3 linked regions of the Homo sapiens genome follow. The protein of the gene in region 1 purifies or fractionates together with the protein of each later gene. This does not show direct contact. Each region holds a gene or a part of one and is shown in the gene's direction. Other genes may lie near its edges.

What was found. Proteins that work in one complex are often made in the same cells at the same time.
Region 2: the proteins of AKR7A3 (region 1) and TRMT11 purify together in Homo sapiens (affinity purification with mass spectrometry; 2 studies listed by BioGRID and IntAct, with this or other methods). This does not show direct contact.
Region 3: the proteins of AKR7A3 (region 1) and ASAH1 purify together in Homo sapiens (co-immunoprecipitation; 2 studies listed by BioGRID and IntAct, with this or other methods). This does not show direct contact.

What each region holds. Positions count from the first base shown.
Region 1 is NC_000001.11:19,282,035-19,285,770, reverse strand, and holds the end of AKR7A3 (aldo-keto reductase family 7 member A3), read left to right. Parts: intron 1-656; coding exon 657-753; intron 754-985; coding exon 986-1,085; intron 1,086-1,645; coding exon 1,646-1,775; intron 1,776-2,878; coding exon 2,879-3,040; 3' UTR 3,041-3,198; downstream 3,199-3,736. UniProt on the Homo sapiens protein: Catalyzes the NADPH-dependent reduction of various carbonyl-containing compounds, including aldehydes, ketones, and toxic products from cellular metabolism or environmental exposure.
Region 2 is NC_000006.12:125,996,508-126,003,545, forward strand, and holds part of TRMT11 (tRNA (guanine(10)-N(2))-methyltransferase TRMT11), read left to right. Parts: intron 1-1,545; coding exon 1,546-1,627; intron 1,628-1,715; coding exon 1,716-1,808; intron 1,809-2,042; coding exon 2,043-2,177; intron 2,178-2,949; coding exon 2,950-3,106; intron 3,107-7,038. UniProt on the Homo sapiens protein: Catalytic subunit of the TRMT11-TRM112 methyltransferase complex, that specifically mediates the S-adenosyl-L-methionine-dependent N(2)-methylation of guanosine nucleotide at position 10 (m2G10) in tRNAs.
Region 3 is NC_000008.11:18,060,102-18,067,139, reverse strand, and holds part of ASAH1 (acid ceramidase isoform a preproprotein), read left to right. Parts: intron 1-2,608; coding exon 2,609-2,683; intron 2,684-3,909; coding exon 3,910-3,955; intron 3,956-4,716; coding exon 4,717-4,861; intron 4,862-5,399; coding exon 5,400-5,454; intron 5,455-5,681; coding exon 5,682-5,763; intron 5,764-7,038. UniProt on the Homo sapiens protein: Lysosomal ceramidase that hydrolyzes sphingolipid ceramides into sphingosine and free fatty acids at acidic pH.

The sequences.
Region 1 (3,736 bases):
CCTGCAGATGGCTCCCAGGTACCCTCAGGATGCCATTCAAGCTCCTCAGGCTGGCCACTGGGCATCTGCTTCCTTCCTGCCTATCTGTGCACCTTGGACCCTTCCTTCCCTACCTTCCCCTGCACTCAGCCTGGAACAAGCCCTTCCCCCACCACCGCCCCTTCCGTGAGAGAATGGTTCAGGTCTCACATACGTGTCTCTTCCTCTGGAAGCCTTTCTAGATGGGCCCAGAAGACCCTGAGACCTCAGGTCCTTGTTTACCTCCTCATGATTCATTGCACAAATATTTGCACACCTGCTTGGTGCCAGGCACTGGTCACAGAACTTTCTAGTCTATTATGATTGCCTCATGACTTGATTATAACTGTTTATACTTGACCTTATTATAAAACCTTGAGGGAAGGGACCCTGTCCTTTTGGCTTAAGAATCTAAATCTGACAACCAGCCCATAGTTGGTGCTCATGAAAGTTGGCAGAATGAATGAATTTTCCATGGGCATAAGCTTCTTTCACCAGCACCAGTTAGAATAAGTATACGCCCAGACGGTTAAAGTCCTAGAATTGTTAAGGTCTGAAATAAGGGTTCTGGAAGGGTAATTTTGAAGTCTCTTCTTTTGACACATCCACCCTCTCCCCCGGGGCCCCTCTCCTTACAGGGCATGTACAATGCCATCACCCGGCAGGTGGAAACGGAGCTCTTCCCCTGCCTCAGGCACTTTGGACTGAGGTTCTATGCCTTCAACCCTCTGGCTGGTACGTGGAGCATTCCTGGCCCTGTCTCAGCCTATTCCCGACCCACAGATGCCCAGCCCAGGACCTGGGAAGCAAGGAGGGTTTGACAAACTTTGACCTCTGAGGTCAAAGACGTAAAGGCTGCATCTTCAGCCCTCCTGGGTCCCTGCCCCTCCCCTAGACCAGAGCCCTGAGGGATGTGGCAGCTTCTGGGGCACTCTAGGCCCCGGGGCTGATTGCTGCTTTCCCTCAGGGGGCCTGCTGACCGGCAAGTACAAGTATGAGGACAAGAATGGGAAACAGCCCGTGGGCCGCTTCTTTGGGAATACCTGGGCAGAGATGTACAGGAATCGGTAAGCTGTGGGTGCTTGGTGTGGATGGCTGGGGTGGGGTCAGCTTTATGTGGAATGAAGTCCTGGGCTGCTCCTGGGGTAAGGCCTTTCCTCGCTGCTGCACCTACTCCCCTGAATTTCTTCGGGAATTTCCAAACCCTCCATCGGTTTTCTTGTTGTCTTGGGACCTCCAGGAGGAAAGGAGACTCCCTGGACCTCGGGGTCTTGAAGTCGTTGCTCTTTCCTGAGCAATCACCTGCTAGGAAGGAAAGAAGGAGCTCTGGAGGGAGGTCCAGGAGGCCTGGGGCTGAGTCCTGACCCATCTTAGCGGCCTTTGTGTCCCTAAGGAAAATAAGAGCAGGCTGATGAGTCCTCAGGAATAAAGATTTGTTGAGGTCTCTGCTGAGGGGCCCAGCATCCTGAGTGGTTCTCTTGCCCAGCAAAGTGGGAGACCCATGGCTAGAGAGAACACCTGCCCCTCAGGGCTGCAGGGTGTGGGGTGGGACAGTGGCCCTGGTTGGCTCTTTGGTTGTGGCTCCCAATGTGGCCCTGACACCTGTGCCACCGTCCCCCCTTCCCAGCTACTGGAAGGAGCACCACTTTGAGGGCATTGCCCTGGTGGAGAAGGCCCTGCAGGCCGCGTATGGCGCCAGCGCCCCCAGCATGACCTCGGCCACCCTCCGGTGGATGTACCACCACTCACAGCTGCAGGTAACCAGTGACCCTGTGCGCTCAGCTTCTTCCCTTCCAGGGGAACCAGCAATATCTTTAGATGAAGGCTGAAACATTTGTTTATCGATTCCTCTGAAATTTCTCTTTCTTTCAACTCTCACAAACATTCTTCCCACTGGTCTTTTTCTATGTTTTTTTTTTGGGGGGACAGAGTCTCACTCTGTCACCCAGGCTGGAGTGCAGTGGCATGATCTCGGGTCACTGCAACTTCTGCCTCTTGGGCCGAAGCAACTCTCTTGTCTCAGCCTCCCCAGTAGCTGGGATTACAGGCGTGCGCCACCATGCCCAGCTAATTGTTTGTATTTGTAGTAGAGACAGGGTTTCACCATGTTGCCCAGGCTGGTCTCAAATTCCTGAACTCAGACAATTCGCCCTCCTCAGCCTCTGAAAGTGCTGGGATTATAGGCGTGAGCCCCTGCGCTCGGCCTTCTCATTGGTCTTTGATGGTATCTGAGTGCCAGGCTTTGTAATGAGAGCTTCATTGCAGGGATTTCATTATTCCTTCAGCTTTATGAAATGACTATCCCAGTGTTATTGACGAGGAAACTGAGTTTCACCCAGCTATGAAAGGGGCAGACATTTTAACACAGGTTTAACTGTAAAGCCCACTAGTCTCATCCTTTTGGTGGGAGCTGGAGTTTCCCTCTCTCAGTGCCTCATGTCTTCCTCACTTATATCCAACTCCAGCCTTAGATGTTGCAATAGTGTCTGGCATATATACAGTAGGTGCTCAATAAATGGGAGCTAAGTGCTCTACATAATTTTTCACACCCATAACCATGTTGAAAATAGAAAAGAGGATTGAATCTCAGAGAGGTTTAATAACTTAGCCGCGTTTACACAGCTGCTGGGGGGCAGAACTGGGCTGTGAATGTAGGTCTGTCTGGAAGCGTCGTGTGGCAGTAGGGGAAGGGATACAGGTTTTGCGTCACATGGGTACAGCTATCCAAGGCACCTTAAGTTCTTTCTGGACATATGGGATACAAGAGATCCCAAATCTCAGCAGGGAGGTGGCTGGGACGGCTGTGAGTAGAGTCGCTGTGCAGCAGAAGAGGGTTGAAGTCTGGCCGTCTCCCTTGCAGGGTGCCCACGGGGACGCGGTCATCCTGGGCATGTCCAGCCTGGAGCAGCTGGAGCAGAACTTGGCAGCGGCAGAGGAAGGGCCCCTGGAGCCGGCTGTCGTGGACGCCTTTAATCAAGCCTGGCATTTGGTTACTCACGAATGTCCCAACTACTTCCGCTAGGCCCATCGTTTCTCAGGCTGCCCAAGGCTCTTCTGTAACATCTTTTGTTACTCACATTTTCTTTAATTTAGAACTGCCTCAGTAAATTCTTAGGGATGGAAGTATTTGGACAAAAACCTAATAGAAGAGTCACCACCAAATGAAGAATAAAACTCCCAGGGTGCTGTGTGTTAGTCTGTTTGCGTTGCTATAAAAGAATACCTGAGACTGGGTCATTTATAAAGAAAAGAGGTTTATTTGGCTCACCACTCTGCAGTCTGTACAAGGGGGTGTGGTGCCGGCATCTGCTCTTGGTGAGGGCCTCAGGAAGCTTACAGTCATGGCAGAGGGGGAAGCGGCGCCAGCGTGTCACATGGTGAGAGAGGGAGCAAGAGACAGACAGGGGAGGAAATTCCAGGCTCTTTTAAACAACCAGATCCTGTGTGAACTCATAGAGCTGGAACTCACTCATTACTATACAGATGGCACCAAGCCATTCATGTGGGATTTGCCCCCATACCCTAACCCCTCCCACCAGGCTCACCTCTAACATTGGGGATCACATTGCAACATGAGATTTGGAGGGGACAAAATACCCTGATGATATCATTGTACCAGTACCACCCCCCCGCAAATGTCATGTTCTTCTCACATTGCAAAGTACAGTCATCCCTTCCCAATAGTCACCCAAAGTCTTAACTTGTTTCAGCATCAACT
Region 2 (7,038 bases), on another chromosome or scaffold:
TGAATTAATGTAATGATGCTGTTCATTGTTTATCCTCAGTGTTTCTAGACTTTATCATTGGCATCCACTTTTTTTTTCTTTTCTTTCATTTCTTTTTTCTTTATACTGTTGGAAAATTTTCTGTCATCAGATTTGAAAATTAAACTGTATTTTTAACTAGCATCTTAAATATCAAACAGCTTGTGTTATCTTTAAGCTGCTTTTTCTTCCTGAACATTTTGGCAGATTGCTGAAAACTTTCTGTAGAAATTATATTTGCTAATGCAATGCAAATAAGAATTTACATATATCTAGTTTTATTAACATGGTTAGCGATGTTTTATATCATCATATGTAATTGTTGTATTACGGAATTGGACACAACCCAATATTTAGTTAACTTCATCCTATTGAGAACTACCTGCAGCCTTTAATCTTTTACAGTGAAGGTCGTTAACAGGCCTTATTATGAAATAAAAATGACTAGAAAACAGAAACATAACTTTTAAAAAACTCTTTTTGAATAATTGCTTGTTAGGTTTAAAATAGCCACTGGAGTACTAAGAACTTGTATGCTTCTTTCATAACTCTTCTAATTCATATATTTGATTAATGGCACAATTAACAGTTGTATAATATAATTTTTAATTGCTTTTTATTATCTATATATTTTGTGTAGCTGAGGTATACCTTAAGTGATAGCTAAGTGAGATTAATATTATTGTAGAAGCCTTTTCTCTGTAAATTCAATAGAAAAGGAAGAAATCATTTGCAAAGGAAAAAAATTACAATTTAACTGTATCAGAATGAAGATAGACTTTTATAAAAGCATAGATTCAAAACCAACTTAAATTCAAATTTTTCTGTGTTAGAAGGGATTGAAAGTTAATTTATTATTAACATGAAATATTTTGAGCATGCGACAAAAAGGTGAAAAATATAACAAGTACCTAGGAATATGCCTTATTAGACCTCAACATTTTGGGTAAGTTAGTTACTAAAATTGTGTGTGTGTGTCCATACGTGCGCACGCACATGCATGACAGAGTATCACTCTGTTGTCCATGCTGGAGTGCGGTGACATGATCTTGGCTCATTTTAGTCTCAAGTTCCAGGGCTCAGGTGATCCTCCCACCTCAGCCTCCCAAGTAGCTGGGGCTATGGGTGTGTGCCACCATGCCTGGCTGATTTTTTGCCTTTTTTGTAGAGACAAGGTTTTACTATGTTGCCCAGGCTGGTCTTGAACTCCTGGGCTCCAGTGATCCACCCACCTCGGCCTCCCAAGATGCTGGGATTACAGGCGTTAACCACTGTGCCTGGCCAGCTAATTGTTAATAACATTTTTATTTGGTCATTAGTCTTTTTGTATTATGGAGAAGACATTGGGAATAATTGGCTTTTCTGCAGCTTTTTACCCATTTATCTAAAATAACCGATTCATTTATACTTTGCAAAACATAGGCAATAATCAGTGGAGTGTGCATAAAGAACTAGTAAAATGACTGTATGTATTCCTGTGTGAACTAAGTTCTTTACTGAGGTTAGTACCAATCATTTATTTCCTAGGTCTATATTTGAACTATGGGGTCATGGACAATCTCCTGAGGAGCTGTACAGTTCTCTTAAAAACTACCCTGTGGAGAAGATGGTGCGTAGTAAAATGTGGTTTTATATAGGCATGCGTGCAGATTCTGTAGAATTAAAATACTCAAAAAACTGATTTCCTTTTATTTTAGGTTCCATTTCTACATTCGGACTCTACATATAAAATAAAGATTCACACTTTTAATAAGACATTGACACAAGAAGAGAAAATCAAGCGAATAGATGTAAGTAAATTTAGCAAAACAAAAAACCTACATGATGAATGCAGTCTGGCCATTGTTGATATATAGGAATACCTAATGTCTGTGAAGTGTTTATTTTGTACCACATTTTGTGCTAAGTGCTTTTCATGTTTTATTTAATGTTGACTCCAGGCTTACAAGGTAATGTTATTAGATAAGCGCCATTTTTCATTGTAAATTATTATAAGACATCAGCATTTCTTTTGTTTCTTTTAGGCACTTGAATTTCTGCCATTTGAAGGAAAAGTGAATTTAAAGAAACCGCAACATGTATTTTCTGTTTTGGAGGATTATGGTTTAGACCCAAACTGCATCCCTGAGAATCCACATAATATTTATTTTGGTAGATGGGTGAGCAAGTTTTCTTTCTACCTATGTCAGTTTGTTTTTTTGAAAGCTACTTATTAGGCCTTTTGTTGACTCCTATGTAGAACTTTAAAGCAGCTGAAGAGTCAGAACTACTGAATGGATTAAAATTGGTGAAGAGTATGTGATTATGTTTTGTTTTGTGTTTTCCCAGAGATTCTTAAATGAAGTGCAAGAGGCTTGTTAGATATAGGGAGGAGTTGGTATACCTGGAAATGTTGAAACAAGACTTACCAGAACATCTGGACTGTTTTTTTTTTTTTTGTTTGTTTCTTTTTTTTTATAAAGCAGAGAAAACACAGAGTGCTGTGGTAGTTGAGGAATCTCATTTGTGGAGATTCCCAATCTGGGCCTTCCATTCCAAAAGAAATGGAATTACTGTAAAGCAGTTCTGCCGACTTCTCTGAGGCTTTAAATGGGTGATTGGAAGCTGTGAGTGGAAGTTGTGACTTATGTTAGAGATTATTGTTATGTAGGAGAACAAAGAAATGGGCATACCTTAACACCTACCTCTGGAGTAATTGCATTCAAATGCAGTTCATACTTGTTTTGAAAAGAAAAAGTAAATGGAATGACATTAAGCAATAAAAGGCTTTGTTCATAACTACCTCAATTACATTATTTTAAATAAATAAGTTTAGAGCAGTAATAAGTGGAAAGAAGTTCTTATCAGCAAAATACAATGGTCTTATTGTGAGTGATTATCTTAAGTCTATTCTGTATGGCTATACTAACATAAGAAATATCTCTGATTTAGATTGCAGATGGACAGAGAGAGCTTATTGAGTCATACAGTGTCAAAAAGAGACACTTTATTGGAAATACAAGTATGGATGCTGGTTTGTCATTCATTATGGCTAACCATGGAAAAGTGAAAGAAAATGATATTGTCTTTGATCCATTTGTTGGAACAGGTATTTTTATTTAACTTTTAAGCTAGTGTAGAGATGTTGCTTATTTATATTAATGAAGGTCATGGTAATATTTTTGCTAAAAGAGTAAATGGATAATCTTTTAATTGTGTTTGGATAGTGGCCAACAGACAACCACATACTTGTGTAATAGCTAGTATTTAACACTTATGCCACTTCAAAGATGATGCTGATAGAATTGTATGGGTTTTATTCCAGATAAACCACTAGGAGGGAGCATCCATCTAATTTTTTTGTAGCAGAAAAACTTGCAATACCATACATTGTAGAAATGTTGTAAAGCTGTATAGTTTATTTAAATAGGAAAACTCTTGGTGAAAGAAAGACTTGGATGACAAGATCAAAAAAATGTATTCATCCAGTTTAAATGTACTCATACAGTTTAAATTCATAACTGTATATGTGGATGGAGAAAATAGTTAATATATCCTATCTTTGAGTTGGTTTATGGAGGTTTATAAGTAAGTGTGAAATAAGAAAAGTGTCAAAGTATCAATGGGCTAGATAGCCTGGTCACTGTGGCAGTGACCTTGGTTTTTTGTGCATATGATTGGGATAATTTTTTATGGAAGTCCTAAAACTCCATCTGACTCTGTGCAGACTTTTTCCTACTTCCACTCAATTTTGCTGGATCTTGCCCATACCCAGCAAATACTTGTATTTAAATTTGTTTGACCAAGCTCATTGTGGCTCATTTTGTGGTTGGAGCCTGTCCCTGTAGCCATCTTTCCCCTTGGGCAGTGATGATGCAGAGCTAACGTTTATTGAATAGTAAATGTATCAGGTACTATGCTATGCATTCTGATGCTACTATCTAGTTTAATTCTTACAACAACTAACATGGAGATACTTTAAAAATTTGCTTGAGGAAATTATGGCAGAGAGAAAGGTGCAGTGACTTGGCCAAGGTTATACAGTATATTGGTTTCATAGGATTCAAACTCAAGCAGTCCAACTCCAGAGCTCATGCCCTTAACTTTGAGCTGCCTCTCTCTGCATTGGGATCTGCCAACCAGCTATTACACCATGTACTAACTTAAGGAATATGACCACATATGCTTAGGAAGAAGTAGTATCAAGGTCAATAAATTTCTAATTGATGGAATAACTTTCTCTGTTTATTGTTGAGTTAATTCACTGGTGAGTCTTTCTTCTCTGCCAGTTTCTCCATATCACCTACCCTCAGCATACTCTATATTCTTTTCTTCCCCACTCTCATTATCCTAAGTAACTCACCCCAAATTTTAAACTTTTTATTGGAAATAATATCAAACTTTCAGAAAAGCTACAAGAATAAAAGTAGGACAAAGAACATGCATGTATCCTTAACTTAGCTGTTGTTAACATTTGGCCTCATTTGTTTTATCATTTGTTCTATTTGTTTCTATTTACATAATCTTTTCTTTCCTGCATCATTTGAAAGTTGTATCCATCACATCCCTTTACCCTTCAAGTAATTATTTCTCAAGAATGAGGATATATTCTTCTACATAACCACAGTACTGTTTTCAGTGTTAATAGATGTATTAATACAGTACTTTGATATTCATATTTCAGTCTTGCCAGTTTACCCAGTAATATTAATATTTTTGACAGCATCCTTTTCCCTTTCCTGGCTAGGATCAGGTATTATATTTTGTTGTTAATATTTCTTTGATGTCTTTGATTTGGAACACAGCCAAAGTCTTTTTTTCTTTTATGAAATTTGCACTTTTCAAGATGCTATTTCTCTTCCCTTTATTTTTTATCTAATTTTTTCCTCATTTTGGGTTGTTTGATGTCTCCTCAAGATTAGGATTAGGTTATACATTCCCAGCTGGACCACTACATCAGTGACTTTTGTGGCCTTCTCAGGGGTGTGTACATGATGGCCTTCTGCCCTGCATTGGTATTGGTAATTTTTGATCATCTGGTCTAGGTTGTGTTTGATTTTTTTCTGTTCATAATCATAAACAGTACAATTACTGGTGGTTTTATTTTATTTTATTTTTTTTCTTGCTATTAAGCAATCTGTGGAGAGACACATTAAGGCCATGTAGTATTCTATTCCTTATCCAGTCTCCTCTCACCACTCAGGTCGTCAGGTTTAGTAGCCATTGATAATTCTTTCCTGAACCAGTTTTTACTTTGATGGTTTCAAAGGGATGATTTTCCAACTCCAGTGCTCCCTCCACAGTTACAAGTCGACATTCATTATTCTACTGTAAGCAAAAGCCCTTTCCTCTCTTCCATGTATTTGTTTTTCTATTTGTTATTAATATGAACTAATGGGTTCTCCTTTTTAACCCCGATGGTCTATAATTCATTATATTTCTTAATTTTCTTAATTACTTTTGTTCCTCAAATTGTGATTTGCCCAGTGAGAGCTCTTTCACATTGAATCTGTCTTTGTGACATGTTCCTATCCTTTTTTCTTTGGAGTACTTCCTTACTTTCTCTTCTATTTGTTCAAGCTCTGGTATCAGTCATTTTTCCAAGGAATTTTTGTTTCTTTTAGCAGGGAAATGAAATCTGGATTATAGATCCTTTCAGTGGACAAACTAGAAAATATATATGCATATATACACAATATGCATGTAAGTGCATGTGCAAATATACATGTATTTATTCTTATATACTGTGCGTATGCACATACACATGCATATACGTATTTTAGACACTGTGAATTTGCACATATACTATAAATTGCAGTCAATCCTTACAGATTTCCTTTTGACTACCCTATTCTATGTTTATGTGTACCTTCTTCCACAGTGAGAACCCTGATTCCTAGCTACATCAACACATTTACTCTTTTCCTCATTCCTATATCTGAAATGGTTTCACAGTTGTTTTGCTTATGCCACTTAAAAATATCCTGTGAATAAGAGTTCAGGATGTGTTTTCAGTTCTTCACCCTAAGGGGCAGTAAAGTCAAATACTGTGCCTGCTTTTTCCCTTTTCATTTAAAATTCATTTGGGTTCATTTGTTCCAGTTTGCCCTCTGTTTTAGGTTTTTATCTCCTATCCCCCACTCCTTATTGATTTACTTTTATTTTCAAATATGTATAAGATGAACTTGCTTCCAAAAGTCAGAACTACACAAGAAGTGGTACTCAAAGAGATGTCACTTTACCTTTATAACGCTTCCAGCCTGTTCTCCCACCTATCCTAGGTGACTAACTTCATTGTTTTCTAGTTGATTCTTCCTGTTTCTTTTTGTAATGATAATACATTTTCTGATTCATAATGGAATATATACATTTTCTTATTTTCGCTACTTTCTTACACAAAAGGTATCATACTGTGTGTGTTGGTTTTAACTTTGCTTTTTTCACTTAATGGTATTTCCTGGAAATCACTTCCTGTCAGTTCATGGAGCTTATCTTTATTCTGTTTTAGTTTTGCTTCATGAGTGTATGTACCGTAATTTATTCAAACAATCTCCTATAGTTGGACATCGGTAGTTTTCAGTATTTTACAGTTACAAATAATGCTTGAAATGACTAACCTTATGAATATATACCTTTGTAATGTTGGAGATGTAGCTCTAGGGCAAGCTTATCCAACCCGCAGCCCATGGACCACATGTGGCCCAGATGGCTTTGAATGTGGCCTGATACAAACTTGTAAAGTTTCTTAAAACGTTATGAGAATTTTTGCAATTTTTTTTAGCTCACCAGCTATCATTAGTGTTAGTGTATTTTATGTACAGCCCAAGACAATTCTTCTTCGAATGTGGCCCAGGAAAGCCAAAAGATTGGACCCCTCTGTCCTAGGGTAAATTCTTACAAGTAGGATTTCTGGGTTGAAGAGTGTATGCATATGCAGTTTCATTAGATACTGCCAAATTTGTCTCCATTATACTATTTTGGATTCCTACCAACAGTTGTAGGAGAGTCCCTGTTTTTCCACAGTCTCACCAGCAGAGTATA
Region 3 (7,038 bases), on another chromosome or scaffold:
GCACAGGTGCTGTATGTCTTAGATATACAGCACAGGTGCACAGGTCTTAGATATACAGCTCAGTGAAGCTTCAGAAATGCATGCATGCATGTAGCCATGACTCAGATCAAGATACGGAAGAGCCCAGCACTCCACGATGCTCCATCATGCCCCTTTGCAGAAAATACTGCCTCCTCCAGTAAACACTATTCTGATGTCACTATAGATTAGTTTTGCCTCTTCGTGAACTTTGTATAAATAGAACTGAACAATATGAACTGTCCTGTGTGATTTCTTGTATTTCATTATGGGTGGTGTGCTATTGTATCAACAGGGTATTTGGGTGGTTTTCAGATTTGTGATATTAACAATAAAGGAATTATAAATATTGTAGTACATTTTGGGGGTGTCTGGGTACTCATTTTCTGGATATATACCTAGGAAGTGAACTGTTGTGTTATAGAGTAATTGTGTGTTTAGCCTTATAGATTCTGCCAAACAGTTTTCCAAAGTGATTCCAGCAGTTGACAATCAGCAGAGTATGAGAGTTTCAGTTTTCTCCTCTTGATAATTCTCCTCTCGATAGTGTCAGTCTTTTTTTTTCCTTTTTTTTTGTTAGTGTCAATCTTTATTTGAGCCTTTTTGTTGAGTGTCGCAGTATCGCATTTTAGTTTCAATTTGCATTTCCTTGATGATTAATGAGATTGAACAGTTTATTGACTTTTTTTTTTTTTTTTTGGTTTTCTTTGTTTCTTTTGGAGAAGGGCTTGTGAAGGTCTTTTGCCCTTTTAAAAATTAGATTGAAGGAATTTTTTACATACTTTGAATATAAGCCCTTTGTCAGATATATGGATTCTGAATATCTGCTCCCAGTCTATGACCTTCATTTTTATTCTCTTACTTTTGTCTTTTGATGAACAGAAATTTTTAATTTTAGTGAAGTCTAATATCTCAGTCTTCTCTTTTATGAGTAGTGCCTTTTGTATCCATTTAAGGAATCTTGGCCTACCCCAAAGTCATATATATATGCTTATATATTTTCTTCTAGATGTTTAATGTTTACTTTTTACATTTAGGCCTATCATCTATTTTGAATTATTTTTGTATATGCTATGACTTATGGGTCAAGCTTCAGGTTTTTCTCATGTGGTATATCCAGTTAGTTAAACAGCATCAATTCAAAAGGCTATCCTTTCCTCAGCAAATTGCAGTGGTGTCTTTGATATAAATATACAATACATATATATATACACACACACACACACACACACACACACAATGTGTATCTGTATATACAATCAGGTGATTGTATATATGTTGTTTTGTTTGGGGAATTAAGTTTCATTTACATATTTGTCTTTTTGTCTTCCCTTATATCAATACTATTTCACCTCAGTTACTAAAGCTTTATAGTAAGTCTTCAAATTAGGTGGTATAATTCTTCCAACTTTGTTTTTCTCAATATTTATTTAAGTTACTGATTTCTCTGAGCAGTATCTTTTATTTTCAGGGAGAAGACCTCACATGCCATTCGTTAAAATTATTCTTAGATATTGATGGTTTGGGAAGCTATTTTTAAAATTTCAATTTAAGCTTTATGGCATGTAACGAAAAATATTTTCCCCACGACCCCAAAAGTTTTATCTTTAAGCTAGCAAAGCAGTAGTGTCATTATTTTAAATAGCCAACAGTACCTTCATTTTATGAGATGATTGAGAATTTGTGAAAATCAGTAGTATTTATCAACAAAAGTGGCTAGTTTTGTGTGCTGCTTCTTTAAAAAACTCATTTAAAAGATAGCATACTGGAAATATGTACTTGCTGCCTTTATGGAAAGCAAGTCTAATTCCTTTATTATGTAAAGAACTCTAGCAACTCAATACCAAATAGAAATACCTTATGGATTAAGAAGAATAACATGATGTATAAGTGGTGTAAATTTATATAATTATTATAAATTATTATAAATGTATAATAAAATAACTAGAATTTCACCAAATTAGAAATTTAATGGAAATAAAATACACATTGGATTTGGGTGAAAAAAACATGTTGAGCTTAACATGTTAATGTTAAATGGGACAGAAATACAATGTGCTGCCTACTTTTGAATTAAATGCTAAATAGCAGTATTATACATTTTGGGAAAATATTCAAAAAATAAAATACCCTAGAATGGAGTTTCTTGGCAGCTCTGTACTAATTTTAATAGTTCTTGAATCTCCTTTTTCACCTTAGAAATTTTAGTCACACTTTAAAAATCTGGGCAAAATATATGTCCAGCAAACAGCCAAGAGCCAGATGTATTAAATGATCATATTTACGCTCCCAAAAGAAAATTCAAAATGAAGCATGTTGATAAACATTTTGGATGTGATGTTGGAGAACAATTGCAACCTGCCCAGATGTTCAGCTCGCCCGAAGGCTGCCTCCTTGGTGACTTGTTTCATCTTGAGTCTAGAGAGTCCAGGCTGGGGAAGAAAACCACCTCCAGCCGGCCGTTCCAGCACAGCCCCACTGGCCAAAGCACACACTCACACAATGAAAACACTGAAACTTTTTCTTAAAACAAATTTTTCTCCCATTGTCATGGTTCTGTATATTAACACAAAATTTTCTTTTCTCATAGGAGAGATTATTTCATTCAATATTTTTTATGAATTATTTACCATTTGTACTTCAATAGTAGCAGAAGACAAAAAAGGTAATTGTGCGCTGAGGGAGGGTGGGCAGCATGAAGCACTACATAAAGAAAAATCTTCTAAATGAAATTAGAACTTCTGAAATTTGGGCTTGCTATGTAAATTCTGTGTATGTTGCATACAGCTTTTTATTTCTTGGTAAAATTTTGTGATTGTACTGAAAATTTTCCTTATTTTCAGACTACTGTACTGCCTATTAAAGTTGATTTCAGACATGCAAAAAACCTGGAAGAAATGTTGCAGGGCTAGAAACATTCTTCTCTTCCTCATAGTTTACTTCTACCCATCTACATGCTTTGATGGAAGTGCTCGCAGGAGGTGCTTCCTTATCTTCGTGTATGTCATGACATCTGTCCTTTTCTTGAGGCCCAGAACACACATTCTCCCATCCTTTCCCAGCCAGGCAACCCAATGGATACCAGCCTCACTTTCCCGTATTTTTCCTGACTGGTTCCCAGAGTACAAAGCACAGGACAACTTCGCTAACTCACCCTGATCTTTGACCTATACTCTGGGTATAAATCTGCCTGTACCTTACCCTTGAGATGTCCTGCTCTAGGGGATGATGCCTGAAGGGAAACATTTGATGAATCACAGTAATTGAGGCTCCGATTTCTGTGTCCTGGTAGAACCATGTGATAGTGAACCAAAACATGACCATTGATTCCTTTTCCCATATTCTGATCTTACCTGGAAACCCGTGCTCTCAGATTTTGTGGGGTTATCTGGCAGATAGACGGTGACAACAGTCCCATCTGGTGAAGGCTTAGGATATTAGGATGTTTCTTACTTCTTATTGTTTGAAGAAACAGTTGTGAATAAAAATTAATCAAAATTAGAGGCCAGGCACAGTGGCTTACACCTGTAATGCCAGCACTTTGCGAGGCCGAGGCGGGCGAATCATCTGAGGTTGGGAGTTTGACACCAGACTGGCCAACATGGTAAAACCCCTTCTCTACTAAAAGAAAAATACAAAAAAAAAAAAAAAGTAGCCAGGTGCGGTCGCACATGTCTGTAATCCCAACTACGTGGAAGGCTGAGGCACAAGAATTGCTTGAACCTGGGAGGCAGAGGTCGCAGTGAGCTGAGATCGCACCACTGCACTCCAGTCTGGCCAACAGAACGAGACTCTGTCTCAAAAATAAATTAATTAATCAAAATTAATTGTCCAGCTTTGATTTAGAATCTTAACTGCTATTACACGTCTCTTCTGTCTACCTTCAAATAGGTCATCTAATACATGGGAGAAACATGGATTTTGGAGTATTTCTTGGGTAAGTAAAGAACAAAGGGTCAGGCATGGTGGTTCACGCCTGTAATCCCAGCTTTTTGGGAGGCTGACACGGGTGGATCACGAGGTCAGGAGTTCAAGACCAGCCTGGCCAAGATGGTGAAACCCCGTCTCTACTAAAAACATAAAAATTAGCCAGGCATGGTGGTGGGCATCTGTAATCCCGGCTACTTGGGAGCCTGAGGCAGAGACTTTTTTGAACCTGCGAGGCGGAGGTTGCAGTGAGCCGAGATCGCGCCACTGCACTGCAGCTTGGGATACAGAGCCAGACTCCATCTCAAAAAAAAAAAAAAAAAAAAGAACACAGAACTGTTTTGGTCTGTAGGAAGAGTAGGTTGTGTTATATTGATGATAAGTAAGTCCCAAGTCACACCCAAAATGTGATCATAAGTGAAGATAAATGGATTGCTTGAGTGCTGAGACAAGAGGGACATGCTCTTCTATTTTATGTGTCCATCTTGACCTTTCTGAAAAAATAAGAATATTGTAATTAGCATTCTATGTTTGAATCTGAGGCTCACTATTTATAAGCTGTGTGATATTGAGAGAGTTACCTGACTTCTCTGAACCTCAATTTTATCATTTGGAAAACAGAATAAATATACCATATTGTAAAGGTCTTGTTAGGATTGATCGTGGTGACTCGGTAAATAAAGCTCCTAGTGTAATGCCTGGCCCTCATCATCATGTTGATCATTACTATCACTGTGTTTCTGAAATGTCACTGAAACATGTCTTTTATAGGTGGAACATAAATAATGATACCTGGGTCATAACTGAGCAACTAAAACCTTTAACAGTGAATTTGGATTTCCAAAGAAACAACAAAACTGTCTTCAAGGCTTCAAGCTTTGCTGGCTATGTGGGCATGTTAACAGGATTCAAACCAGTAAGGAGTCTGTTGTTACATAATTATACAGGTAGCCTTCTGTCCTGTTACCGTTATGTAAAAGTTGAAATCTAAGAATATGAGGACCTAAAGGGAATATGAAGCCCCATTTCACCCCCTTGTACTTCTTGTCACTTCATAGGTATGAGATCTCGTGGTAGAGAAGAGTAGAAAGGAAACGGAGGTTTCTGAGCCTCTTCTGGGATAAAGAGCATGTGGCTGGGTGTCAAGGGCTGGGAGTCACAATCTGATTTCTAGTCCTGGGTCTTCCGCTCACTTAGGCAAGTCAGGCGTTCATTCTCTGCCCTTCAGTTTCCTGTCCAAAAAGCGTTGCCAGTGATACCCCACCTACTTATCTCACATACTAGAATCAAAAATGCTTTGAACTTTTTAAAAAGCCTTTTATGGTTTTGATTTATTTTTGCCTTCCCCATTACCCAAGCTAGGCCTTTATATCCCACTCTGAAGTACAGTGAGCGACAGGGCCTTAAAGCGCATGGTTGATGTTTCTGACTTCGTTGCTTTGTCTTTTTCTCAGGGACTGTTCAGTCTTACACTGAATGAACGTTTCAGTATAAATGGTGGTTATCTGGGTAAGTAGAGCATTCTCAAGTGAAATGGGAATCTCAGAGCTTTTTTATGAGGAAGGCTGGACTGTGCCTTCTGGTTACAAAGTCCAACCTCTTCCGGTTCCCGACTGGTTACAAAGTCTAACCTCTTCTGGTTCCTGACTGGTTATATAGTCCAGCCTCTTCCGGGTCCTGACTGGTTACATAGTGTCACCTCTTCCGGTTCCTGACATTGTGTTCATCTCTTCCAGGTATTCTAGAATGGATTCTGGGAAAGAAAGATGTCATGTGGATAGGGTTCCTCACTAGAACAGTTCTGGAAAATAGCACAAGGTAAAGTGTTTCGTTGCTTTACTATTAAATATTTATTTTAAATTACTCATATTAAAAAATAAAAATATTTGTCAAGCTCCAGCTTAATCCTTTGAGGAACTATTGCAGAATTTCTTAGGTGAACCTCTGACACTCATGTGGAATTACTCATGTTTTCTTCGTGCAGACTGTGTGTTTTATAGCAAATAAATGAATTACTTAAAAAGCACTAGGGATACTGACATTATGAAAGGCACCTATGAATATTTTTGGTGTACAGAAAAAAAATGACCCACACACAAAAGAACAGTCATACAGTAAAATCTTCATTTAAATGGTAGTACAGACCAGGCACAGTGGCTTATGCCTGTAATCCTCACGCTTTGGGTGGCTGAGATAGACAGATGACTTGCACCCAGGGGTTTGAGACCAGTCTGAGCAACATGGCGAAACCCCGTCTCTATAAAAAATACAAAAATTAGCCAGGCATGGTGACACGTGCCTGCCTGTAGTCCCAGCTACTCAGGAGGCTGAGGTGGGAGGATCACCTGAGCCCAAGGAGGTCGAGACTGCAGTGAGCTGGGATCAGTCCACTGCACTTCACCCTGAGTGATAGAGTGAGACTCTGTCTTAAAAAAACAAAATAAATAAATACAAAATGTACTACATATTAACCTGTAAGTTATATCTTGCCTTGGTATAGAAATCTTACAATAGCAAAACTGCCTTTCCTTCATTCAGCCAGCACTGCGTCCAAATAAATGGGCATCAATCCTATTTTTAATACTTCCCAGGGAATAAGATTTAATGTTAGTAGTGTTCTTTGATAACCCACTTCAATTTTTAATAGTCCTAATTTTCAAGAAGGTTTACTTTCTGTTCTCTAAGTCCTACATACTGTAATATTATTTCCCTTTGTTCTGTTGTTGAGTGAAAGGCATGGACAGTAAGGGTGGAAGATGATCTCTTGAGGCCACTTTGTTTCTCCTTCAGATTAGAGGGGCTTCCTAAGATTCCCGCTTCCCATCTCAGTGTTCACCATACAGGGTCAGGGATTGCTTTTCCCAGAGGCATTGCTCACCATCCTTTTTTAGAAAACACATTGTGGCTGGCCATGGTGGCTCATGCCTGTAATCCCAGTACTTTGGGAGGCGAAGGCAAGAGTATCGCTTGTGCCAAGGAGTTCGAGACCAGCCTGGGCAACAGAGTGAGAGCCCATCTCTAAAAATAGAAATAAATAAATAACACATTCCTTAGATACTTGTTTTTCTTTAGTTTCTACAGAGCTAAACATTT